4 linked regions of the Homo sapiens genome follow. The protein of the gene in region 1 interacts with the protein of each later gene in a pairwise test. Each region holds a gene or a part of one and is shown on either strand. Other genes may lie near its edges.

The links.
Region 2: the proteins of TXLNB (region 1) and TCL1A interact in binary tests that used the Homo sapiens proteins (3 or more experiments, as listed by UniProt).
Region 3: the proteins of TXLNB (region 1) and CEP19 interact in binary tests that used the Homo sapiens proteins (3 or more experiments, as listed by UniProt).
Region 4: the proteins of TXLNB (region 1) and LPXN interact in binary tests that used the Homo sapiens proteins (3 or more experiments, as listed by UniProt).

What each region holds. Positions count from the first base shown.
Region 1 is NC_000006.12:139,288,992-139,295,886, forward strand, and holds the start of TXLNB (beta-taxilin), read right to left. Parts: upstream 3,008-6,895; 5' UTR 2,930-3,007; intron 1-2,929. UniProt on the Homo sapiens protein: Promotes motor nerve regeneration. May be involved in intracellular vesicle traffic.
Region 2 is NC_000014.9:95,711,125-95,719,028, forward strand, and holds the start of TCL1A (T-cell leukemia/lymphoma protein 1A), read right to left. Parts: upstream 3,002-7,904; 5' UTR 2,943-3,001; coding exon 2,823-2,942; intron 1,651-2,822; exon of another isoform or gene 1,427-1,650; intron 1,273-1,426; coding exon 1,096-1,272; intron 679-1,095; coding exon 631-678; 3' UTR 625-630; intron 1-624. UniProt on the Homo sapiens protein: Enhances the phosphorylation and activation of AKT1, AKT2 and AKT3. Promotes nuclear translocation of AKT1. Enhances cell proliferation, stabilizes mitochondrial membrane potential and promotes cell survival.
Region 3 is NC_000003.12:196,705,763-196,709,270, forward strand, and holds the end of CEP19 (centrosomal protein of 19 kDa), read right to left. Parts: intron 2,966-3,508; 5' UTR 2,896-2,965; coding exon 2,766-2,895; intron 2,151-2,765; coding exon 1,789-2,150; 3' UTR 515-1,788; downstream 1-514. UniProt on the Homo sapiens protein: Required for ciliation. Recruits the RABL2B GTPase to the ciliary base to initiate ciliation.
Region 4 is NC_000011.10:58,572,828-58,580,381, forward strand, and holds the start of LPXN (leupaxin), read right to left. Parts: upstream 3,030-7,554; 5' UTR 2,946-3,029; coding exon 2,933-2,945; intron 1-2,932. Other genes in the region: E3 ubiquitin-protein ligase ZFP91, read left to right, coding at 6,455-6,795. UniProt on the Homo sapiens protein: Transcriptional coactivator for androgen receptor (AR) and serum response factor (SRF). Contributes to the regulation of cell adhesion, spreading and cell migration and acts as a negative regulator in integrin-mediated cell adhesion events.

The sequences.
Region 1 (6,895 bases):
TCCCCCAAGTGAATACCAACTAATTATAGTCTCTAACGTAGAGAAAGGCAATGTCCTTTCACAAACCATTGATGTTACTAAGGGAGGAGACCACCCCTCATATCGTCTTATGCCCAATTTCTGCCTCCAAAGAAGAAGTAAAAACTAAAACGCAGACATGAAATCCACAGGCAGACAGCCTGGTGCCGCGCCCTGAGCCTGGTAGTTAAAAATTGACCCCTGACCTAATAGGTTATGTTATCTATAGATTACAGACATTGTATAGAAAAGCACTGTGAAAATCCCTATCCTGTTTTGTTTCGATCTAATTACCGGTGCATGCAGCCCCCAGTCACGTACCCCCTGCTTGCTCAATCAATCACAACCCTCTCACGTGCACGCACTTAGAGTTGTGAGCCCTTAAAAGGGACAAGAAATGCTCACTCAGGGAGCTCGGCTCTTGAGACAGGAGTCTTGCTGACGCTCCCGGCCGATTAAACTGCTTCCTTCTTTAACTGGGTGTCTGAAGGGTTTTGTCTGCGGCTTGTCCTGCTGCATTACAATTATTAAAGTAGGGACAGTGGAAAGTTGTTTTTCCAAATCAAGTCACACTGCTGGCATATTTTTGGTTTTGATCTTCAGTTTTCAGTAGCATTCCTTATTATTCACATTAAGAAAGTAATTCATGCTATTTTTCTTTGTGGCCATATTTGTCATTTTGCTTACACTAGTCAGTTTGTGTTACCATTTTCCTGTATAATTCTATGTAGATTAACAATCACTGGGGGTACATGACTGTATATATTTAAAATGTTTAAATATAAAGTGGTATTAGTTTTCTTTCAAAGTTAAAATATTTAATAGAAGAGCCATTGAATTTATTTAAATAACTCATAAGAATAACATCTCTAAGCTCTATTTGATCCATAAATCAATATTTTGCTTAGTGTGAATATTTTGATGTAAATGCATTATTACACTGGATAGAGGAGACATTTCTCACTTTTCTGGCATTTTCTTTTTCAGATAAGCAACACGAATGCTTTTTTTGAGGCTTAAACTGGCATCATTTTTAGATTAAGACAGGGAATGAGGGAAGGTATAAATAAATAGACAAAGTAGTATGGAAACACGGGCCAGGTGCTGTGGCTCATGTCTGTAATCCCAGCACTTTAGGAAGCCGAGGCGGGTGGATCCTTGAGGCCAGGAGACCAGCCTGGCCAACATGGTGAAACCCTGTCTCTACTAAAAATACAAAAATTAGCCAGGTGTGGTGGCGGGCACCGGTAGTCCCAGCTACTTGGGAGGCTGAGGTATGAGAATTGCTTGAACTTGGGAGGCGGAGGCTGTAGTGAGCCAAGATCGTGCCACTGCACTCCAGCCTGGGTGACAGAGCAAGACTTCGTCTCAAAAACTAAACAAAACAAAAGCATGATGATACTTATAACAACAATTCCTTAAATTTCTATAATACTCTTTTATTCCAATATATAAACCAATTTTTTAAAAGAGAAAAACAGATTACAACTTTCTCTTCTAAGTCAGGAAGCTCTAGAAAAACTTAATGATTTTTAAGAAGTAGCAATGTTTCATAAACAAGGAGGAGACCAACTCGAGAAATAATTCAGCAATAATAAGGGCCCTTAGGAAAGGGTGAGAGATGGTACTGAGTCAGAGATTCCAGGGTTTCTGACTATTACCACTTCTAGAGTTGCAATAGATTTGGTTTAGGCCTTTAAGTTATGGTGCATTTTATTTGTAAATAATATTTAACAGTGATGCTGCTAAATAGCAGCATAAAAATGTGGCAAGATCCTCATAATTCACAGGTTTTGCTGTTGTGGTAACATGAAAGTGAAAACAAAAGCATACTGTTCTACAACTGCACAGCTTCCTTTTCCTGTTCTCAGGGCAGTAGATGTCAATTGAATGCTCAGACACCAACAAGAACAGAAAATTCAACACACAGATGTTGCCACTGACTTGTGATGCTCACCAAACACTCATAACTTAGAGGAAGTACTTTTTTTCTTTCACTGGTTTGAATTCACCAACTTGATTATCAAATAATGCAGCAGTTTCATTATTTTCATCACTGGGATTTCTTTTCCTGACCTCACTTGTTGATTGCACTCATCTATATATAACTTAGGCCTCCCCTGAACACGGAGAAAGACACACGGCACCTGCTGTCCAGCCAGAAGTTATTTTAAGCTATTCTAAAATGAGTCATGCCGTTTAGCACTTCATCCTTGAAAATCAAGAGAATCGTTTTTCAGTCAAATTGAAAACAGTAAACATTTAGTGGCTTAAATCCATACATGGGTTTTAAAGTCGGGGAGACTATCTTAGGATGAAATAAAATCTCAAGTAAAATGAACTTCAAAATAATTAATTTAAGATAAGCTGTCCATAGGAGTTTTACTTCGGTTAGTCTAAATGCAAGTGGCTGTTTGTATTTGATTTATTCTTCATGAGATGCCACAATCATTGATTTTTTAAATTCTTAATTCCATGGCTATTCTTTAAACTCCTGTTCCACATTTACTTTAAAACAGAACAGTCATTATAAAGCCCAGGACAATTCAATTCCCAAAAGTAGCCTCAAGACAAGTTAACAAGAGGGAAAAAAACAAAGTCAGAGAACTTTGTTACTTTTCAATCATCCATTTTATATTATGTGGCAAAGAAATTATTTCTAACTTTTATCTTATATAAACTTTATTGCCTTATTTTCCCCTCCCCAGGGAGAGAACTTTTCACTTGTGTTGGCTATTCCAGATGACTATCACAGACACATCCCTCCCTAAGCAACACATTTTATTTATAAATACAACAATGAAAAGTTCTCCAACAGTTCACTGGCAATCTCAAAGTTGCAAGTTTCGAACACCACAAACCGCACCCTATACCTTCTCACAGGGCTTGGGGGAGTGTTTGTCATACTTACCAGAAGGCAAGAAGCTAAGCAAGAAGAGAGAGGAGAGGAAGGAGGCAGGAAAAAGCAAGTCAGAGCTGCAGCAACAGCAGGAGAGGGCGGGCTGGCTGTGTTCTTACAAGGGAGAGAGAAACCCAATACACACACACACACATACACACGTGCACGCACGCGCGCGCACACACACACACACACACACACGCCACAGGCACTGATGGAGGCAGCAGTCTGGAGGAGGTGGGGGTAGGGAAAGGAACATCATATGACACAGCAAGGGGAAAATACACCCAAGCTTCCCTAGCTGTTGCCAGGGGAAATACCTTAGCAGAGAGAAGCAGCTGGAAGATCTCATTAGACTCTCCATGTTTTGTTTGTCCTTTCGGAAATTTAAACTCTGAGTATATTACCCCCGTTGCAAATGCAGTCTTTCACCATTGTTGTCCTTTTTGGGTAGAGATCAGTTTTTCTTACTTCTTGGGTTATCTCCAGTGTGGTGGAAGATTCATCTTCTTTTTCTTCTTCTTCTTGCACTAGCTTAATTAGTGTCAGGTTTCTTACAGGAATCATGGAAAAAGAAAAACAATGGCATAAGAACAGGGAGGTGGTGGAACCATTTTAATTCTGATGTCATTGTTTGGTTTGTTTGCAAAGTTTGAAATAAACATGTAGATGGTGATTTTGGAGCTGAACTGAGTATAATCTTCATGCACGTGGTAATTGGTGTGACCTTGGAGCACAGTCTTTCCCAGGTAACTCTTCCCATCTCAAACAAACCCTCAGGGAAGCAGTCTGCTTTTTCTTCCTTAGTTGGTGGCTTTCCCACATTTTGTAAATCCTCAACATGCTCCTTGATCCTCCTCAGAAAAAGAAATTCCTTCTGATTCACCATAAAATGCCTGTCTATTAATTTACATCCATTTGCCTTTTATTTTTCTTTCTGGAGCTTGTGTTCCCATACTTCCAAAGCAGATTCCTCCATCGGTTTCTGCTCTGGGGACAGGCTAGGCATAGTGGCATCCCTTGTGGGAGGCAGAATAATGCCACCCAAAAGATCTCCACGTCCTACTCCCTGGAACCTGTGAATATGTTTCTTTACATGACAAAAGAGACTTTGCAGATGTGAGGAAGGATCCTGAGGTAGGGAGGTTATCTTGAACTACTGGGTGGGTTCAATGTAATCATAAGGGTATTTATTTATTTATTTATTGAGACAGAGTCTCGCTCTGTCACTCAGGCTGGAGTGCAGTGGTGCAATCTCAGCTCACTGCAACCTCCCGGGTTCAAGCGATTCTCCTCCCTCAGCCTCCCAAGTAGCTGGGATTACAGGCGCCTGCCACCACATCCAGCTAATTTTTGTATTTTTAGTAGAGACGGGGTTTCGCTGTGTTGGCTAGGCTGGTCTCGAACTCCTGACCTCATGATCCGCCCACCTCGGCCTCCCAAAGTGCTGGGATTATAAGCGTGAGCCATTGCACTCAGCCTCATAAGGGTCTTTATAAATGAGGGAGGAAGGCAGTAGGATTGGAGGCAGAAAAGGAGATTTGATGACCTCAGCATAGGTCAGGAAGCTTCTAGAAGCTGGGAAAGGCAAGGAAACAGATTATACTCTAGAGCCTCCAGAGGGATGCAATCCTGCGACATTGATCTTAGATCAAAGAAATTCGTTTTGGATTTCCGACCTCCAGAAATATAAAATAGCAAACTTATGTTATTTTTAAGCTGCTAAATTTGTGATAAGATGTTATGGCAACAAAAGGAAATGAAAACATCCCACCCCCAGTTTTGTCCTACTTATTCTCTGAGTTTAGGGGAGGCATAAGTTATATATAGATGAGTGCACCCAACAAGCAGAAGTCAGGATAAAGAAATTCCAGTGTTGAAGACAATGAAGCTGTTCACTATATTATTTGATAATTAAGTTAGTGAATTAAAATTGATGAAAGAGAAAAGCACTTTCTTCTAAATTAATGAATACTTGGTGAGTGCCACAAATTGGGTGGCATTCCATCCTGGATTGTAGCAAACTGACCCGATCACATCTCTTAGTAAATATAAACAAGTCAGTGCTTTTCAAATTTAAATAATGTATAGACTCACTTAACAGAATAATTTAAATAATGTGGAAATTATTTGAAGGATTATATTATTATTTGAACCTACATGTACTAAAATGAAAATAGGATAAATTCCTTATGCTTACAGTAGTTACATAAATTTTAAAATGTATACATTTTAAAGCCTACAAAATCAATAAATGCGACTCAAATTAATAACACTACTTTTATGTGACAGATATTGTTTTGCTGAACTTAAATTGCTGCTTGCAACATGAATACTCTATTGACTGCTGGGTTTTTTGAGTTTCTGGTACTCTTCTACAATGTGGTTTGGGAATTTCCTCAACACTTGATTCATTCAAATTATTACATAGTTTTTATTCATATGGCCTGCTATGATTTCATGGGGCTCTCATTTGATACGGCTGCATCATTTACTGCTTGCTATGGTCTGAATGTTTGTGTCCCCCCAAAATTCATGTGTTGAAATCATAAACCCCCAGGTGATGGTATGAGGAGGTGGGGCCTTTGGGAAGTGATTAGATTATGAGGGTAGAGCTTTTATGAATGGGATTAGTGTTCTCATAAAAAAGGTCTGAAAGAAACCCCTTACCCCTCTGCCATGTGAGGGTGCAGTGAGAAGAAGGCTTTGTACGAGGAAGTCACCAGACACAGAATTTGCCTGCACCTTGATCTTAGACTTTCCAGCCTACAGAACTATGAGAAATAAATTTCCATTGTTGGCCCGGCACGCTGGCTCACGGCTGTAATACCAGCACGTTGGGAGGCCAAGGCAGGTGGATCACTTGAGGTCAGGAGTTCAAGATCAGCCTGGCCATCATGGTGAAACTCCATCTCTACTAAAATACAGAAATTAGCTGGATGTGGTGGCGCATGCTTGTAATCCCAGCTACTGGGGAGGCTGGGGCAGGAGAATCATTTGAACCCAGGAGACAGAGGTTGCAGTGAGCCGAGATTGTGCCACTGCACTCCAGCCTGGGCGACAGAGCAAGACTCTGTCTCAAAAAAAAAAAAATTCCATTGTTTATTAGTCACTCAGTTTATGTTATTTTGTTATAGCAGCCTGAATAGATGAAAGCCCTATTCTTTCTCATTGTCCTGCAATTATTAAAGTAGTGCTAATTGGCCCTAACTTGAATAGATACACACATGATAGTGGAGGTATCAAAATGACACTTACACAGTGGCTACCCAGATCCAAAACAGGCATATGCATTTTCAAGTATAATTGAAAATAATACAAACATGCAAAACTGTGACTCCCAAGAATTTATCTGTGGCCTGATAGGGGCCCAAAAAACTGGGATAAGTTAATAAAGACAGCAAATTAATAGAGCTCAGTGTTTTATTGTCAAATCAACGTTAAAAGAACACAAATTACACGTCTAAGGCTTTGAACTTTTGTAAAGAATACACTTATTTTTTGAAAATACATCTAACTGTTTACGCAAATATCACAGGAAAATAATTTGAAAATTCAAATGATGCTAAAAAGCTTAACCCAAGAAACAATAACTCCTTGTTCTTCCACCTTCCTCCAACCTTGTGATGCTTTCTAGAGGTAATAACATAAAACTGTTGTAGATATTTTTTGGGGGGGGGATTTACTTTATCATTTTTAAATAAAATGCCTTGATTTTATTTACAACTCACCAATTTTTGACATTATTTATTGTCTTCTCATAATGATAGATGAAGATTTTCATTGTTTACACTCCCCTTTTTCTCCTCTCTTCATTTTCCCCACAAAATTATATCTCAATGTTTAATTCATATCCTATATTGTCTTTATTGAAATAATGTTTACTGTTAAACCAGGTAGAGCATTGTGATTATAGTTCTATTCATATGCAACTTTCTGTTTTTCCTGGAGTTGATAATTTCTTTTTCTTTTCATTTG
Region 2 (7,904 bases), on another chromosome or scaffold:
TGGCTCAGCTGATATAATCAAGCACCAGTGCTTATTTAATAAAGCAATGGTAAGGCCGGACGTGGTGGCTCATGCCTGTAATCCCAGCACTTTGGGAGGCCGAGGCGGGCAGATCATGAGGTCAGGAGATCGAGACCATCCTGGCTAACACGGTGAAACCCCGTCTCTACTAAAAAAAAAAAAAAAAAAAAAAAATTAGCCAGGTGTGGTGGCGGGCGCCTGTAGTCCCAGCTACTCCGAGGGCTGAGGCAGGAGAATGGTGTGAACCCGGGAGGCAGAGCTTGCAGTGAGCTGAGATTGCACCACTACACTCTAGCCTGGGCCACAGAGCCAGACTCATCTCAAAAAAAAAAAAAAGCAATGGTAAATGAAAGTGCCAGCTGAAACTTGTGAAGTACTTTATAGATATGAGCAGCTGCGATAAAGGGGGCTGCCTACAAAGCCCTTGGCTCCCGAAGTGGTAAGGGAGACATGAGTGCCTCCAGGAAGCCTCTCCCATCCCTAGGGACCCTCAGATGGCAGCAGTCGGGGAGGGGTTAGCACTGCCTTCATGGAGAAGGGGTGGTCTTTCTTTCTGATACAGCCACTGTGGACTAAGAGGGGTCAGGCTCCAGTGGAGCTCACCATACATCAGTCATCTGGCAGCAGCTCGAGAAGCATGTCCTCCACGCCGTCAATCTGAGAGGCAGAGAGAGAGAGAAGGCATTGATCGGCCAGAGCCCTCCACTCCCTCCATTCCTCACTCCTGCGCCTTCCCCTAGCTGGAAACAGCAGGTAGGAACCCAGGTGTGAGGATTTCAGGGGCTCTTGGAGACTGCCCCTCCTCCCACCAGCCTTCAGCCTGTGACTGCCCACCAGAGATGTCTTCCTGCGGCTAGCTGGTGGCTGGGAGGAAGTGGAGGTAGGGTTCTGTTAGAGACCTCAGAGGATCTATCTTCTCTCTGGTAAAGTCCTTTAGAAATCTGCACTTGTACATTTCCCCCATTTTTTAATGCTTTTGGGACTGGGATGGAGGGAAGATAAACCACTAAGGCCAGACATGGAGGAGGGCAAACCCAAGATCACCCGATGGACCTCTGGGAGAAAGACACTCACCTTGATGTGGTACACTAAGCGCCAGAAACTGGAGTCTGAGGATCGGTATCGTCCATCAGGGTAGAGCTGCCACATGATAGGCAGCAGGCTTGGGCCTATCTGGGTGGGGGTCATAGGCCTCCCCAGGACGACGTCTTCCCGACGCAAGAGCACCCGTAACTGTAACCTATCCTTTATCTGAGGAGAAGAAAAGGACAGGGCATACTTTCAGGTTCCGCTTGCCAGGGCTTCTCCAGGCGCAGAAAACCGGAATCCCTCCTGCCAGCCATCCACCCATCTGGGCAGGGGTCCGAGTGTGAAATGATGGTCATCACTGTTCCCTGAAGCTCACTTCCTTAGGCCATGCATGCTCCTCTCAGGGACTCTGGCTGGGCCAGGACCACCAGCACACACACGTGTCTAGCCACCCAGACAGGGCCATGAAAGGCACACTTTTTTCTGGCGGGTTGCAGCGGCTCACACTTGTAATTCCAGTGCTTTGGAAGGCAGAGGCAGGAGGATCGCTTGAGGCCAGGAGTTTAAGACCAGCCTGGGTCACAGAGCGAGACCCTGTATCTACAGGAAAAAAAAAAAACAACAAAGAAAGAAAGAGAGAAAAAGAATACTGGCCTTTTCAATGATGTGAGGCAAAATCTGTCCCACAGTTTGCTAGTGGGTTATTTTTTGTGGAGCATGTATCATGATTTTATGAAAAACTGTCTGGTTCGTGGTTTTGGTGTCACGTTGAAGAAGAGATTTCTCAGAGATTTAAAAAAAGAAATCCACTGAATCTTCAAATTATTTCTTCAAATTTTGATTTTAAAAAAGTAAGTATTTAACTTGATTTTTAAAGTAAAAACATATTTAAAAAATTGAAATGCCAATAAAAATGCAGATTTTGTGGTGGTTAAGAGCCTAGAATTCCAACCCCATTACCTACTAGCAATCTTACCTCGGACAAATGTACATTTTTGTGCCTCAGTTTCCCATCTGTAGAGACACAGTCAACACTCAATAATTTTTGATTGCTACTGGACATACGTGTTCTAATATATTTTTTAATTTTTATGCTTTCTTCAGTGTATGTTTGGAGAGAGTTTGAACATTTTTTGACTCTTTTTCATTGAGTAAATCCAAATACTTGTAAAAGACTTATCTATTTCTTTAACAAAAACTTAACATGGATTAAGGACCCATCTTAAGGCATCACACATTAAAAAAGTCAATATTGATTCAATACCGGCGCTTATACTACGACATCACTTGTTAAATTTGTTTTCTAAATAAAGCCCAGAGGTAGTGGAAAATACTTCACACTCTAGGCCAGTGTTTGCTATGCCTGGTTGACCCTAAACTGTTGAGGGTTCTTTTTAAAAATACAGATTTCTGGGACCCACCTGAGATGATTCCGATAATCGGCCATATGGATGAGTCACTTAGAGATACCCATTTTTAAGGATTAGGACCCCGAAGCCCAGAAAATGCCTGCTGTAGTCAACATTATAGTCACACTCCACAGGCACTGGGTCCACCCCTTTGACCGACATTCCTTTGCGGTTTTCCCACCCTTCTTCCCTGCCTGGAGAACTCCTATTCATCCTCCAGAGCCCGGCTCAAAGTGGCTTCATCTGTGGGGATCCTCCCTGCCCCATAGTGAGTGCTCCTTGAGTCCTCGCCCTTCCTAGGGCATCCCAAGCTCCCAGGGGCTGCCCCTGCTGCCTCGCCATCCGCTCCAAAGCTGGCTGTACCTCGATGGTTAAGGGCAGCCAGGCGTGCTGCTTCTCGTCCAAATACACGAACTTCTCCCAGGCCCACAGGCGGTCCGGGTGGTCGGTGACTGCCTCCCCGAGTGTCGGGCACTCGGCCATGGCGTCCTCGGGCCGCCTAAGAAGCAAGAGCCAGAGCCTCTCAAGGCCGCTCGCTGGTCCCTGGGATGTGGGGCCGACCCTTTATATCCGGGCAGCATGCGGCCGCCACCAAGCGGCGGGGCGGGAGGACGGCCTTGGGGCGGGACCCCGGGTCGGGAGAACGACCTTGGGGCGGGGCGTAAGGCAGGATGGGGCGGGGTTTGTGGGGGTCTTGGTGGCAAGTGAGGGTCCCGCGCAGGCGCTACGTCCCGGCCTGACTTGCTCCCTGGAACGGTGGCAGCTCCTGGGAACGCAGACCCGGCCCCAGCTGGCCCGCGCCTTCCTCGAGGCCCCGGCCAGCAGCGACACCGACCGCCGCCCTCTGCTGCTGCTGGAGAGGCACCGGGGTGACCTTGGCCCTTTCTTCTTCTGGAAGACCCCCCCGCTTCCCTCGGCTGCCGGACCGGGACTCTGGGCCTCTGCTGGGAACTCACAGTCGACACCAGGATGCCCAGAGCCAGGACCCACTCCTCATCTTATGGGATCAGAAGAGACCCGCGCGGGCCTGAGTTAGGCCTGGGCTTTCCCGGGTTCCCTGGATCTCCACCAGCCTGTGCCTTTGAGTGTCAGAGTACGTTTTTTGGCAAAGGACAACTCCTGACGCTCCCTCTCCCTCTTCCATACACAAAGCATGCGTTTTCCACAGGTCTGATGTGCTGTGGACATCTAATAGCTATTACAAAATGGAGAATCATGGGTTTTTGCCCTTGGGCTTTGAGTTTACTAGTGAAAGCATAGTTCGAAATGAATACTTAAAAAGAAATCCCTCCTTCCACCCTAAGATCAATGGATTTGAAAAGTGCCTGGTTTATATGATCAAAACCACCCCTCTGTAAATTACAAGCAATAAGGAAAACAATTTCACTTTATTTTGCAGTAACGCATTCCCACTAAGGCAATTAAGAAAGTCATGCACAATGAAAAACATGTGAAACCAGCTCCAGCCTGGTTCAAACATCACCATGGGATGGAGTTTGGTGTCTCATCTTCCAGCTCTTTCCCAGTTCTCTGACCAGGCACTAAGAACATAATTTGTGATCCTTTGAAATATCACCAAAGTGGAAATTAAGAGATCTGATGAGGACATCTGATTCACCTGGCAGCTGGGTATCTGCCTCTTTGCCTATCCAGAGAGCCTAATTCCCAAGAAGGGGCTGAGAGGGCCTAAGGTAGTCGAGACATAATGGGATTTACCAGGAACACAACATAGAAGAGAAAAGCCAAGGGAAGTTGGGGGTGGAGTGAGGGCCCTTGAGCTCAGCAAACCTCTTTTCCACTGTAGCCCTTAGTGGTGTTAATATTTAATATGCAAACTTAAAGGTTTCATGCTGATTTTCCTGTGAATGGCTCTTGACTCCAGACCTAGATAGCCACAGAGCAAGATGACAAGCTCGCTAATAAGCTCTGTTGGGGAGGTCTCAGCCCAGGCCAGAGCTGTGAAGTGAGAAATAAGTCCAGTTTAAATAGTGCTGCTGGGATGGACTTTTGTGGCCAGGGAAGGGGTACCCAGGAGCCAGTGTGGCCACTGACCCAGCCTCATCAATGGCCCTAGGATCCAGAATGCCACAAACAATGGAGCAAGAATCAGATCTGTGTGTCTGGGTAAGCAGAATGTTCTGAGAATATAATTCCTTTTTCCTTCTTTTGTAAGAACAATTTATTTCTTCAGTTTTGCATGAGGGCTTCTTAATATTGAGCAAGAATATACATCATTATTGCGTGAGATTTAGAAAATTATTTGAGAGAGGGTTCCAATAAATGAAAATGAATTAAGGATGTCTGTGGAGTTCATTGGGCAACTTATAGAGCCCTTGAGCTTTTTTAAGTGAACATTCCACAAGAGGGGAAACAGTAGCTATTGCATAGTCTCAGAGCTGTCTCTGAGCCTCCGTGGCATGTTATCTGCCCCATCTAAGGGTTATAAAGGCCATAAGCCTAGCTTTAGAATTTTATGTTCCTTTCCAAGTCTTTGTTAGTCTGATTTCCCTGAGGATAAGCAAATGGATGTTTCACACAGAAAGCTACAGGAAGCAATCATTTTGACAGAATCCTTAATGGATGCGTTCATGTCCTGATTTAGATCTAGTTTTGCCTTTACCACGATCACCTGTGAACTTGACAAATCCTTTGCAACTTGGCCTCAGTGCCATAGTTTTGTAATGAATGGGGCAAAATACCTGCTCTCTAAGCTTGTTTCTAACTCAGTAGGCCCCAATCCTCCTATAACATTGCCTAGTGGGAGGAGGGAATAGTTAAGAAAAGAGATGGACAAAATATATGATGTTAGTTCAGGAATGCCTACAGTTTTTGGTACAGTGGCTGTAGATCAAGGACCCCAGTGGAATTCATGGGAGCCATTCTTCTTGTTTGGGTTCCAAAGAAGGGGTTGAGGAGTAGTCAAGGCCATCAGGATGACCTTGACTCAAAGTGTTGTCCCTGGACCAGCTACAGTAGCATCACCTGGAGCTCGTAAGAATGACAGAATCTGGAGCCTCCCCCAAGACTACTGAGTCAGAATCTGTATTGGAACAAGACCCCCAGGTGATTCACGGGCATGGTAAATGTTGGGCTATATGGAGGGAGGGTCAAGAGGGAGAGATAGGGGGTGTCTGATTCAACACACCAGTGCCCTCCAGATTTCTCCAACTATGACACAGGACTTATATCGGTGTTTGTGTATCATTTACTTCCAGGCTATCTTATTTTCTGCCAAAATCACCTCTAATATATAGAGTGTTTTCCTCTTAAAAGAAAATCCTAGTAACCAAGGTCATCCTCACCAACCCTGGGGTCCTTGATTGTCAATGATTATAGCAAGCTGGAAAGAGCCTATTTAGAGGCTACTTAGGTGTTTAGGCCTTTGGGCCCTATGATGACTGAGCCTAAACCACTAAGAATCACCTGGGAAGCTTTAATGAAACACCTGCGCCTGGATCCCACTCCAAACCAATTACATCAGAATCTCCGAGATTGAGGCTTGAGAAAAGTAGGTGATGCTAACACGTAGGCAGGGTTAAGTACAATTTCTCTAAGATCTGAGTGACTGTTTTTGACGTGTGCACAGATTTATAAATCTAAATAACTACGAAAATGTCAAAGCTATTCTTTCTACCATCAATTCTCATTGTAAACTTCACCCCAACTCCATATTTTACTTCTTTCCCTTTGCCCTACTTTGCTGCTTCCAATCCTTCGTGGTCAGGGATCCATAGCCCTAAGTTTATTGGAATCATAAGGGTCTGAGATCTTGCTAATGTGTAAAACACAGAATCTGTGATATATATGTAGCTATTAAGGCATCCATGCCTGGAGTGTTTTGTTTGTTTGTTTGTTTTTTGAGACAGAGTTTCCCTCTTGTTGCCCAGGCTGGAATGCAATGGTGTGATCTTGGCTCACTGCGACCTCCACCTCCTGGGTTCAAGCGATTCTCCTGCTTCTGCCTCCCGAGTAGCTGGGATTACAGGTATGCGCCACCACGCCTGTCTAATTTTGTATTTTTAGTAGAAATGGGGTTTCTTCATGTTGGTCAGGCTGGTCTTGAACTCCTGACCTCAGGTGATCCTCCCACCTCGGCCTTCCAAAGTGCTGGGATTACAGGCATGAGCCACCGTGCCCAGCCTGTTTTTTTTTTTGTTTTTTTTTTTTTTTTTTTAGTTCCTAGGTCTGGGCCATAGTTGAAATAATTAAGGCTGCTGATCAAGTGAGTTCAGGGTACAAAAGATGTTGTAGCCTTTACTCATAAGGGATGAAATGGTATCTCTAAATTAATGGAGAATCTGAGACAAGGATATTTCAAGTAGAAATTAGGGACTGATCCTACTCTGCCCACTACATAGCTATCATCTCTCTCTTTAAAATTAACAGTTCTAAGGAACTTAAAGCTTCTCCAACTTTAAGGTGTATATGGAGATTTTATTTAAATACAGATTCTAATATGGTAGGGTTGAGGCGATTCTCAAGATTCTGAATTTGTAACATATTCATATCCTCGGAGTTGATACAGGTACTAATGGTCTATAAATCACCTCTGGGTGGCAAGGACCTATACTAACCCCCATGCTACCCTTGATACCCACACAAAACACAAATGAAAAACACAACTCACAACCCCTACTCAAAATGCAGCGAATAGTTGATTCTGCCAAGCTAGCGAGTGACCAAGATGTGATAGAATTGCACTGGACACTTTGAGCTACAACTGTGGTTGCCATTTGCCAGAGGCAAGTTAAAATTGACCTACATTTGTACTGGAAACATTTCTCAATCCTGGGATTACTCCACACCTTGGGTGTTACTGTCCTACTGATGCTATGATGCCTACAGCTTTGTTTTTGTTTTTCTGTTTTGTTCAAAAATGTTTTAGCTATTCAGACCTTTTGTGGTTCCATATGAATTTTAGGATTATTTTTTCTGTTAATGTGAAAGTGTTGTTGGAATTTTGGTAGGGATTGCGTTGAATATGTAGGTTGCTTTGAGTGGGATGAACATTTTAATAATTTTAATTCCTTCAATCTATGAACATGAGATATTGTTCCATTCGTTTGTGTCTTCTTCAGTTTCTGTCATGGGTATTTTGTAGTTTTGCGTGTTCAGATCTTTCACCTCATTGCTTACATTTATTCCTAAGTATTTTATTATTTTTTGTAGCTATTGTGAATGGGATTTTTAAAATTTCTTTTTCACATAGCTCATTATTAGTGTATAGAAATGTTACTGATTTTTGTATGTTGGTTTTTGTATCCTGCAGTTTTACTGAATTCATTTATCAGTTCGAACAGCTTTTGGATGGAATCTTTAGGAGTTTTCTATACATACAAGATCATGTCCTCTACAAACCGAGACAATTTAACTTCTTCCTTTTCATTTGGATGCCTTTTCTTTCTTTTACCTGTTGCTCTGATTAGGATTTCCAGTTCTGTGCTG
Region 3 (3,508 bases), on another chromosome or scaffold:
TTACCTATAGCCAGGCACAGTGGCTCACATCTGTAATCCTAGCACTTTGGTAGGCTGAGGTGGGTGGATCACTTGAGCCCAGGAGTTCCAGACAAGCCTAGGCAACATGGTGAAACCCTGTCTCTACAAAAAATACAAAAATTAGCCAGGTGTGGTGGTGGGCACCTGTACTCACAGCTACTTGGGAGGCTGAGAGGGGAGGCTCACTTGAGCCCAGGAGGTTGAGGCTTTGGTGAGCTGTGATCATGCCACTGCACTCCAGCCTGGGTGACAGAGTGAGACCCTGTCTCAAATAAAAAATAAACTACCTATATCTATACAATAAAGAATAAAGGAATACTATGTAGATATGGAAAGATCTCTAATTCAGAAAATTATTTGGCTCCCTTTGGCTACTGTATGTATGAGATCTGACTATTTCAAAACTCTGGTGATATCACTACAAGAATGAGCTCCCTTTTAATGAAGTGCTTAATGGTAAGGAGAGTGGAAGTGAACAGGTAGAAACACTGAGTAATTATTTTCAGTTTTATTTAATAAACATCAATTTCCTTGTAGAAAACATAGAATTTCTACCAACTAAACAATATTGTAATAAGGATAAATGTATCAAATCACAGATAATGTTGTTAAACGAAGATGCTGTCTTGCAGATCCATTCATGAACAGGCCTAAACTGGCAGTGCCTATTGTTCATTTATTATGGGTGGATTTCCCATTTTACAAACAAACCTTTTATTTATGGGAAGAGGTTCAGCGTTTCGCAATGTCTTTAGTATGTATTTCCCGATACCGGAGGGGCAGAATTCCCCCTCTGTCCATCAAGTGACATCTGCTTGCAGCTGTAGGGAATTTTGCAGGGTACTCTTTTCCAGAGATAAATAATATAAAGATATAACACATAAGAGGTAATTCCCTGGTAACCATATATGTCCCCCAATCTTGTCTTGTCAAACTATAATTTGCTTATGGTTCCTCAAAAAAAAAATTGTTTCTTGTCCCTTTACTACTTCCCCTCTCCTTCTTTTCAGTTGCTCTTATCAGGAATCCTACACAAGCATCTACCTAAACACTACTATTTCAAGGGCCAGGCCACCTCCTATCTCTTTACTAAAGGACAAAGTCTTCCCTTACTATTCTACTCTACAGTAATATATGCTCTGGCCTTCTTTAGCCTTTATCATGCATTTGGCACTAATGTTTGTGTTGCTTAATACTGCTAATTAGCTTTTCACAGGTTTTGACATCTTCCAGTCAGATTGTAAGCTTTTTTTTTTTTTTTTTTTTGAGATGGAGTTTTGCTCATCGCCCAGGCTGGAGTACAATGGCGCGATCTCGGCTCACTGCAACCTCAGCCTCCCAGGTTCAAGCGAATCTCCTGCCTCAGCCTCCTGAGTAGCCGGGATTACAGGCACCCGCCACCACGCCTGGCTAATTTTTGTATTTTTAGTAGAGGCGAGGTTTCACCATGTTGGCTAGGCTGGTCTCGAACTCCTGACCTTAGGTGATCCACCCGCCTCAGCCTCCCAAAGTGCTGGGATTACAGGCGTGAGCCACCGCACCCGGCATGATTGTAAGCTCCTTAAAGGCAGATTCCTTTATTCTGTTTTTCCCATACTCCTCATGCACCTACATAGTAGATGCTTTAAATGTCCTGGTTTTGAAAAGTAACATGGTCAATCCCCTATAACCCAACATATTTAGTATTCTTTACAGCTTCTTCCAGAACCAGTCTGGTAATAAACATGGATATTCTGCTAGCCCAATGCATGTTTTGAGTGTTTGGTATCAGAACTCATCAGCTGACTCTGTGTCCCAGCCACAGGACTGCAGTTGATCGTCCTGTGGAAATTCAACCTCAATGTCATAAACAAAATTTGGATCATCCTTCTTCTTCTGATTTTTCTCAAAAAGTTCATCCATGATGCTCTTTCTTTTGGCAAGCTCCTTGTCATCTAGTTTGTTCAGGTCTTCCTCAGGATCAATGGTTGTTTCCCGTTGAATTTGTTCCATTGTTTCTGCCAGACTCTGCCCCGACAAGTAACCTCGTAAAAAACTGAATAGCTTCTCTAGCTGCCTCAGGGATACTTGTTCTAGGTAACTCTTGTGTCGCGGATTATTCTTTAATTGTTCAGCAGCTCTGGTGCAATCTGGGAGAGAGAAGAAAACTATATACCACATACGTACCACGTACATCATATACGCCATAAACTACTGCAACAGCCAAAACAGAACAAAAACTCTGAACCCTGAAAATATTATCTCCATTATAGTCAAGTAGCTAAATGGCTTGATTGGAATGAATTACTTTGTAGAACCATTCCTTTATATTGAGCTTTCAGTGTGGTGGGAGAAGGACAGATACAGTTTTGACTTCTTTAACTTAAAAATCACTTTGTAGAGATATTAAACACTTTCAACTGGAGAATATGTCTGAGAAGAAAAGTGATATTATAGCTTTTAGATAGCAGTAGTGGTATTAATAAAATATTAAGACTACAAATAAAAAACATTTGGAATGAGAGAAGGGAATTAATATTATTGAATAATGCTATATCATTTAACCTAGGCAGCAATCCCAAAAGGATTATTAATTATCAGATTGGAAAAAAACACTACAATTCCCTTTTATAGATTAGGAAACTGAAGCTCACTGAGAGTAAGTAATTCATCCAGTGTCACACATCCAGTCCCTGACAGAGTCATGATGTGAACCTGTATTTAGAGAATATTTAAGACAGGAGGCAAGATAAGACATGAGGTACCTGAAAACTTTGAAAAGTTTCGAACTGGCATAATGCGCTGGCGAATTTTCCCCTTGATTTCACTCTCATAGATTAAGATAATAGCTGGAGGCTGAAACCTAATCCCACATTTCTTGGCAGTGCACATCATTCCCATGTACATGTCCGGGTAAGTCAGAGGAAATCTGATGAATATGTGTAAGTTGCATAATGACTTCCTGCTAAAGGGAAAAAACAACTAGGTGTTGGATAAATGTCATTCATTCCCCTCGCCCCTTTGCCCCAGAAGATCTGGTTCTAGTCCGGCTCTGGCCACACACGCTCAGCCTGTGAAACTCATTTTTTTTAAAATTAAAATACGGACTGCTTCATGAATTTGTGTGTCATCCTTGCGCAGGGGCCATGCTGATCCTCTCTGTATCATTCCAATTGTGGGGTATGTGCGCGGGAACGACCACAAAGCTCAGTTATTTTGAGAACTGCCCTGAAAGTTCAGCTTGGCCCTGGGTTAGTTTCAACCTGTTGGATCCCTAAGATCTGGTTTTTTCAAGGATATAGACTTGTTCATATGTGAATCTGGGGATGCAATCCAGTTTGAACCTCTTAGTGTACTGCACTCTTACTGAAGATCGAATATGAACCCCTAAGTCAGCCCAATAGCTGACCTATAGGGTCTTTACTATTTATCAATTAAGAAAGGGCATATCGAGCATCCTCGGTATCAAGGTACTATGATAAGGTAAGTTTTTTAACCTTAATCATTT
Region 4 (7,554 bases), on another chromosome or scaffold:
TATGAAGTAAGACTGATGAAGAACTGATTGTTTCAACTGGTTGATGGGTATATCAGAATTCATTAAACTATTTTCTCTACTTTTGCATACTTAAATTTCTTTATAATAGAAGTTTTTTAAAAAGAAGGACAAATAGGCCGGGCATGGTGGCTCATGCCTGTAAATCCCAGCACTTTGAGAGGCCGAGGCGGGCGGATCGCCTGAGGTTGGGAGTTCGAGACCAGCCTGACCAACATGGAGAAAACCCGTCTCTACTAAAAACACAAAATTAGCCAGGCATGGCGGCACATGTCTGCAATCCCAGCTACTCAGGAAGGCTGAGGCAGGCGAAACGCTTGAACCTGGGAAGCAGAGGTTGCGGTGAGCCGAGACCGTGCCATTGCACTCCAGCCTGGGCAACAAGAGCAAAACTCCGTCTCAAAAAAAAAAAAAAAGAAAAGAAAAGAAAGAAAAAGAAAAGAAAACTAAGGTAGAAAAAGAAAGAAAACTTTTTGCCTCAGATTTTTATTAGCCAGACCCCACACCAAATTTGAGAATTTTGAATTTTTATTCTACATCTTTCAATTATGCTAGAGCCCCTTTCTTTTCTATTTTCTAAGCTTTGCTCTAACTAGAAGCCAAAGATCCTCCTGAGCTCAAAATAAAAAGCCATTTACAATAAAGATTATAAGAGAGAAGAAACCATACCACAAAGAGTAGGAAGTTGCCCTCAGAAGCACCAGCTAACCAAAGTTATCAAAACCCTTCTTTCTGGGTCATGAGTTATAGGCTTTTCTCTTCCTGTTTCATATGAGTGTGCATATCACCAACACTGTGAGGTTATTATGCCTTTTGCCAGATTTTGTAATTTGAAGATGACTAATTTCAGTATGACAAATATGGGATTCCTGGAGAGTGGGGGCGGGGGAAGTGGGGACTAGACTGAAGACTCCATAATTCTTCTCTGTAGTCTTTTACTGTGGAGATGAAATAATATCAATATTAACATGAAAGGAGTAAAGTGAGGTCTCTTGGGAGTCTCTGAGGGTTGCATGGATTTCATTCGGAGGCAGAATCTGCTCCTGGTTCCTCTTTATCTATCATGCCTAATGCCTACGTAATGAGGGTTTAGGTAAAACCTTCTGGGTGTATACAAGCTGCTAGCCTCTGAGGCACCACTGCAGACAGGAAATATTTGCTCACTTGAGCCAACCTGTCCTCGATGCCATTTCTCTGCCAGCAGGAAGAAAGATCCACACCAAGTCTCAAGGGTAGTTACTGGGCTGATGACAATTTGAAGAAACTGTTGAAGTGTAGCCATCAACAGCCTGTGGAGACGTAGCCAACTGGATAATCTGCACAAATATTAGCTTCCAGGCTACTTGGTACTTTCTGTATTTCCAGACAAGATTTACCTAACATTTAGCCTGCTCAGGAGATGCAAAACAATATAAGTTTCTGTTAAATCTGGGTTACTTCATTGGACAGACACCAGAACCAATAAACTTCTAAAATAGGAGAGCACCTTGTTGCTTAGTTTTGGTGTCAGGTGTTCCCGACAGTGACATTGAAAAAGTTATTTTGTTTTTCTTAGTTTTCTCATCTGAAAAAGAAGTGGATAACACCTATTTCAGAGGGTTGCTGCAGACACTAAAATGATTAACATATGTAAAAATGTCTAGTTTTTGCTTGATTTACTAAATAAGTATTAGTTTCCTTTTGAATTATTTGCCATGAAAGCCTTTCGGTGTCCCCTCCATCCCCCCCAAAAAAAAGAAAGAGAAAAAGAAAAAAGGCCCTAGCACTACTAGAACTCAAGCAGAAATTCACATTCTCCCAGCACTCACGTAGGATAAGAAATAGAATTCTACCCCAAGTCCAAAAAAGAGTCTGGCCCAATATCAAAATAGACTTTACCTCCAAAGCAGTTTGATATTTATTAAACACTACCTTTTTCTCTTCATTAACATCTCTTGCCTCCTGGTAATTTGCCCTTTACTTTTCCTCTGTTTCTCCAGCTTTGAAATCACACGCCATTTTTTTTAAGACAATGTAACAATGTGCAAGATATTTTTTGTTGTTGTTTTTTGCACTTTTGACATACCCTATCCCCAAACACACCCCAAACCAGGACACTGTGGAATTAATACAGTTTGGAAATTGGGTATAGTTTAGTGACTCAGTGTTAGTTAAGATGCTGGCAACAGATGTTGGCAAAGGCTATGGAATGAGTCCCAAGAATGACAAACCTTACATTACTCCAAAGGTTTGAAATCCAGGATTTCTCTGGTTAATATGGTTAATAGTTCCACTGCTGGTTTTAATTGTCTTAGAGTGGAAGGAGGTGTCATATTTTCAGGCCCTAGTAATCTCTTCCTTCAGAATTCTTCTGAATAAAAAGCTTAGCAACAAAATCACTAGAGTTAGAGTGCTATGCCTTCTTGATTTAATACTAAAACATGGAACAAATGAAACCACTCTGGCCTTTTTCCAACCTCTACAGATCCCTCATTCTTATACTTCTAGTCCGTCTTTTCTTCCTCATAACACCCCAATTCCCTTTTTGCTCTTTCTTTTCCTCCTCAAATCATATCTCTGCATTGTCTCGCTATGTGGCCACCCTTGATCTCCAGTGACCTCCAAAGGGCAAAACGCCCATAACAAGACAACAACTGCAGTAACAATCCAGTCCAAAAGTATTTGCCAAGAGTTTATTCCGCGGTTAGCACCAAACTCTCCATCTATTTTGCCACTGCAAACAGTGAACCCATAGTTCCCCAAAACAATCATAGTTCCTCATGCTTCACTCTTGGCAGGGCTGAGGACAGGAAAGAAGTGAAAATAAAATCTTCCATTACTACCCTCAGTCTAGCCAGAAGTATACCCCACCACACAAGGAGATGGCAGCCAAGTCTTCACTCCCTCAGAGTTTCTCCTCAGGCTCCTCACTCACCTAACTCTTCCATTGTCCTACATCCAAGATGCTCTTGTCTCACAGGCCGTGAGGAACAGCTTTGGCATGTGCTGAAGAAGAGGACCGCAAAGGAACTGGATGAGACAGCATAAGGCAGCCTCTATAAACCTTTTTGGTTCCTGTATTTGCTTAGCACTTCCTCTCTTTTGATTTGGTGAGCTTTTTTTTTTTTTTCATAGGTTACACAGTTTTAAAAATGTGACTGACATAGAAAGGTAGATAGTAAGATTTGCATTATGGCAGTGCATTGGCCAGGGTGATAAAGATTCAAAATTAATTTTGCAAAATTTGAGGACCTACTCTGTGCCAGGATTCATCTTGGATTCATGGGAATGGCAGACTTATACTTGCGTTTTTTCCAAGTGTAGGTACCCCACTCTGAGCATCTTTCTTTTTTCTTTTTTTTTTTTCTGTGAAGCTGGGAGACACAGAGGCATAGTCTCCTTCTTAAAATTTGCATCAGAGTTGACCAGCATCCATTTCATTTTGTTGTCTTATTTATTCAGAAATTATGGTTATCTGCTTTCCTGCATGGAACGTAAATCCTTAAAAGTAGGGCAGAAGTGGATTCATGCTTGGATTCTCAGGGCCTGGTTTACTCAGTGGTCCCAAAAGCAAACATCTATAGGGTGGTCACAAAGAAGGAAGCCAGGTTTGACACCAGATGTTAAACTGTGTGCATCTCAATTAAGCATAATCCCTGCCTAGATACACTGCCTTATAGCAATTTCTTTGGAAAGTAACACTGAGGTTAACTCTTCACCTTTTTTACCACTGTGATTTATTCACCTTGAATTAAACATTTACAAAAGGCCTACTATAAAAAAGCAATACGTAAGGAACTATAATTATGGCCCTGTGAAATAGATTTTTTCCCCCTTTTTACCAATGGTGAAATAGGTTCATGTAATAGCAACTTGCTAAGATAATTAATTGGTAGCTTTGCTACTTACTATAATTGCAAAGTCTGGGATCTTTCCTCTACAACACCGTAGCCTTCTTTACTTTTTTTAAGACAAGCTCTCTGTCACCCAGGCTGGCGTGCAAAGGTACTATCATAGTTCAGTGTAACCTCCAACTCGAACTCCTGAACTCAAGCGATTTGCCCTTCTCAGCTTCTGGAGTAGCTGGGACCAGAGGTGCATCCCATCACGCCACCAGGTTAGCTTAAAAGCTTTATTTTTATTTTTTATGTAGAGGGTGGTCTCCCTATGTTGCCCAGGCTGGTCTGGAAGTTCTGGGCTCAAGGGATCCTCCCACTTTGGCATCCAAAAGCGCTGGGATTCCGGGGGTGAGCTACCACATCCAGCCCACAGTGGCTTTTTTTTTTTAGGGAATAATTCATTCTCCATTCCACTGTCTGTACATTTTTTTTTGAAAGGAGATTCCTCCTCTGTATTACTTTGAGCATCCATTGGATGTCAGCACTGTTCCTTCCAAAAGTCTGCTCACTACAAACTCAATCTTAAAAAATTTCCATTGACACTATGCCAATCGATTATTACAACTGAAAATGACATTAGCCCTATGAAAATGGAAAATACTCAGTAGAGAATATAAAACATTTGTCTAATATGAAGTGGTATCTGAGTCAAAGTACTGGAAGGAAAAATGTACTTCAGCACTTGTCTACAGTTTAACTGAATGATTAATGTGAAATTTAAAATTGGATCCCCAGATCTTGTTTCCAGCTTCTTTCTTTTGGGACTTTTAGCCCTGGATGCCTTATTTTCCAGGGGTAAAGGATGTTCTTGCAAATCGTTCCTTGATTGTAATGGATGAAAAGAAAAAAGAAATGGGAGAGGCCCACTGCATCACCAACTGCAACGGAAATTCCCTTTGATGAATCAGGAAGACAAATTAATGTCATACGCTAGCGTGCAGAAAAGTAACCTCTGATAAAGTTGCTATTGTATAAACCGCAGAAGCAGATGGCTTCCGGCCGCAGAGCTTAAGAGACCCTTCAGCTTCTCGGTGTAGGTCACCAGTCATGTCACGCTCACAACCCTTTCGCCTCCCTCTAGGTCAGGCACCGCATCCAAGTTAAGCAACCGACGCCGGCTCCTTGGTGTCCCAACAAGGTCTAGTAGAAAAGCAACTTTATAATTCGTTTCACAGATTTGATTAAGAGCCAACTGAGTAGTGGGCCTTGTGCTAGGGCTCCGAGGGCCCAAGGACCCCATGGAACCAGATTTAGTCGCTGACCTCTAGGAGCTCACAGGTGAGTGACTCACACACCGGAAGACGAGATCAATAATGTAGACATGAACGCTGGCTAGCCAGTCCCAGAGGAGGTGTCATCTGACCAAACCAAGGCAAGTCTGGGCAGTTACGCAGACACCCCGAGAAAGGTACGCCAACGCCCAGATAAAAAGTAAGAAAAAGTAGGAAAAACCCTCCCATCAGACCAGCAATTGGCTCGACGCTTGAGCCCGGATGTACGGCACGCGTCGCGACCTAACCCGGAAACACTGCCTCCCGAAAAAAAGGTAAACTCTAGACTGCGGAAAGTAAACTACCTTTCCCGTCGTGACTCAGTTAGAACCTCCCGGCATCCTCTCCACCTCTGGTTTCCCATCTATTTTTCCTAAAGCCTAGGCGAAATAAGACTTCATCTCCCAGAATGCCCTTGGTTAAGTTAACGGTGCGCATGCGCCAAGAGGCGGGCCCTCGTTGCCCCCACAACCCCGCCTCCGTTTTGCCGCCGCCATTTTTTCAGAGACTTTCATCCGGCAACCGACGGGGCTTTTTTTCTTAAAGGAGAAGCGACAGCTCAAAATACTACCCCCTTCTCCGCGCAAGATCTGGCGGCGCTGGGGACAGAAAGGCCAAAGACAGGAAAGTGGGGTAGGGTGGAGGCGGAAGAACGCCCAGGCTACTTCTGCGGCCTAAAGAAGAATAGAAAGAGCCCTTGTGGTATCAGTGGCTCCTCAGGGAGGCAGGTGCGCGCGCAGCCAGTCTAGGGTTTGCGTGAGGCGGGGAAAGAGGTGCGATTTCTTCTCACCCGCCTCCCTCGCGAGACCTGCCCCTCGCACTGCCCCTAGCGCGCGTTGAAGTCTGGAGGGGGGAAAAAGGTCACTTTGGGATTGTCGCGAGACACAGCCGTTTAACGGTGAGAACGGGTGCGCGGGGAAGGAAACCTCGCGCGCTCCCCTTTTAGCCGTTTCCTGATTGGCTGAAGGAAGGGGTGGGGGAGGGAACCTGGGGCGCCGCTGCGTGTAAGACTGCGAGGGGCGGGGTGAGGAGGCTTGTCCTCTTTTCCGATTGGCCCGCTGAGCGTCTGTGGCGCGCGCGCGCGCGCCGCCAGCGGTAGCGGACCTTGAGTGGCAGGGGGTGGGGGGGGCGCCCTCGGAGCCGGGCGGAGGGGAGGGGGGAAAGAGGAGCGCAGGGTGAGAGTGAGCCGCAGGCTTCGGGAGGCGAGGGGGCGGGGGGAGCAGCGCCGAGGCCGCCGCCTCCGCCTCCGCCGCCTAGGACTAGGGGGTGGGGGACGGACAAGCCCCGATGCCGGGGGAGACGGAAGAGCCGAGACCCCCGGAGCAGCAGGACCAGGAAGGGGGAGAGGCGGCCAAGGCGGCTCCGGAGGAGCCCCAACAACGGCCCCCTGAGGCGGTCGCGGCGGCGCCTGCAGGGACCACTAGCAGCCGCGTGCTGAGGGGAGGTCGGGACCGAGGCCGGGCCGCTGCGGCCGCCGCCGCCGCAGCTGTGTCCCGCCGGAGGAAGGCCGAGTATCCCCGCCGGCGGAGGAGCAGCCCCAGCGCCAGGCCTCCCGACGTCCCCGGGCAGCAGCCCCAGGCCGCGAAGTCCCCGTCTCCAGTTCAGGGCAAGAAGAGTCCGCGACTCCTGTGAGTAACAGTCTTTCAGGCGGTGGGAAAGACCCCCCTCTGTCCGTACGCAACCCTCTCGGCTCCCGTAGCGCCTACTCCACGTGACATCCTGCCTGGTCTGCCCCCTGCCGGCTCCGCACGCCAGATGTCACACCGTTTCCCCGGGAGCCTTCGTGCCTCCTCTCTGCGCCACCCTCATCTCGCTCCTGTACCTTCGCTTGTCGGGCCGTTTCCCCACTCCCCGAAATCATCTTTTGATACACCCCTGCACTCGCTAGTGATCCACCTCCTCCCTGACACCCGCAGGCTCATCCCTCTTTCTGGCATCCGCACCCCCTTTGTCACCCTATCCCTTTCCTTTAGGCGGCTCTCCAGTATTACATCACATGCCCTTTAGGGAATACACAGCCCGATCATAGCCTTCAAAAATGATTCCCCCCCGCCTTCGCGTTAGCTCAAGAGCCAGATGTACTAGTGTGTTTATGTAGCTTTTTTTTTTTTTCACTTTTCTAAATTTTTCGCAACCCTTCTCATTCTTTTGAGAAATTTGCCACTTATTATGGTCAGGTTAAAAGCCCACTGCTACGATTTTAAGTATGGAGTCTTTCATATAAAATTATATGAGCATTCTTTAATGTTTGTTTTTACTAAGTAGCATATGTTTTATCTTTGTGTTTCGTGTTTTTAAATGTAGGAACTTCATCCTTGAAATTAGAATCATCTGAGAGGAATTCCTTTATTACCTAGACGTAATAGAGGAAACATGAACAGGTGGCC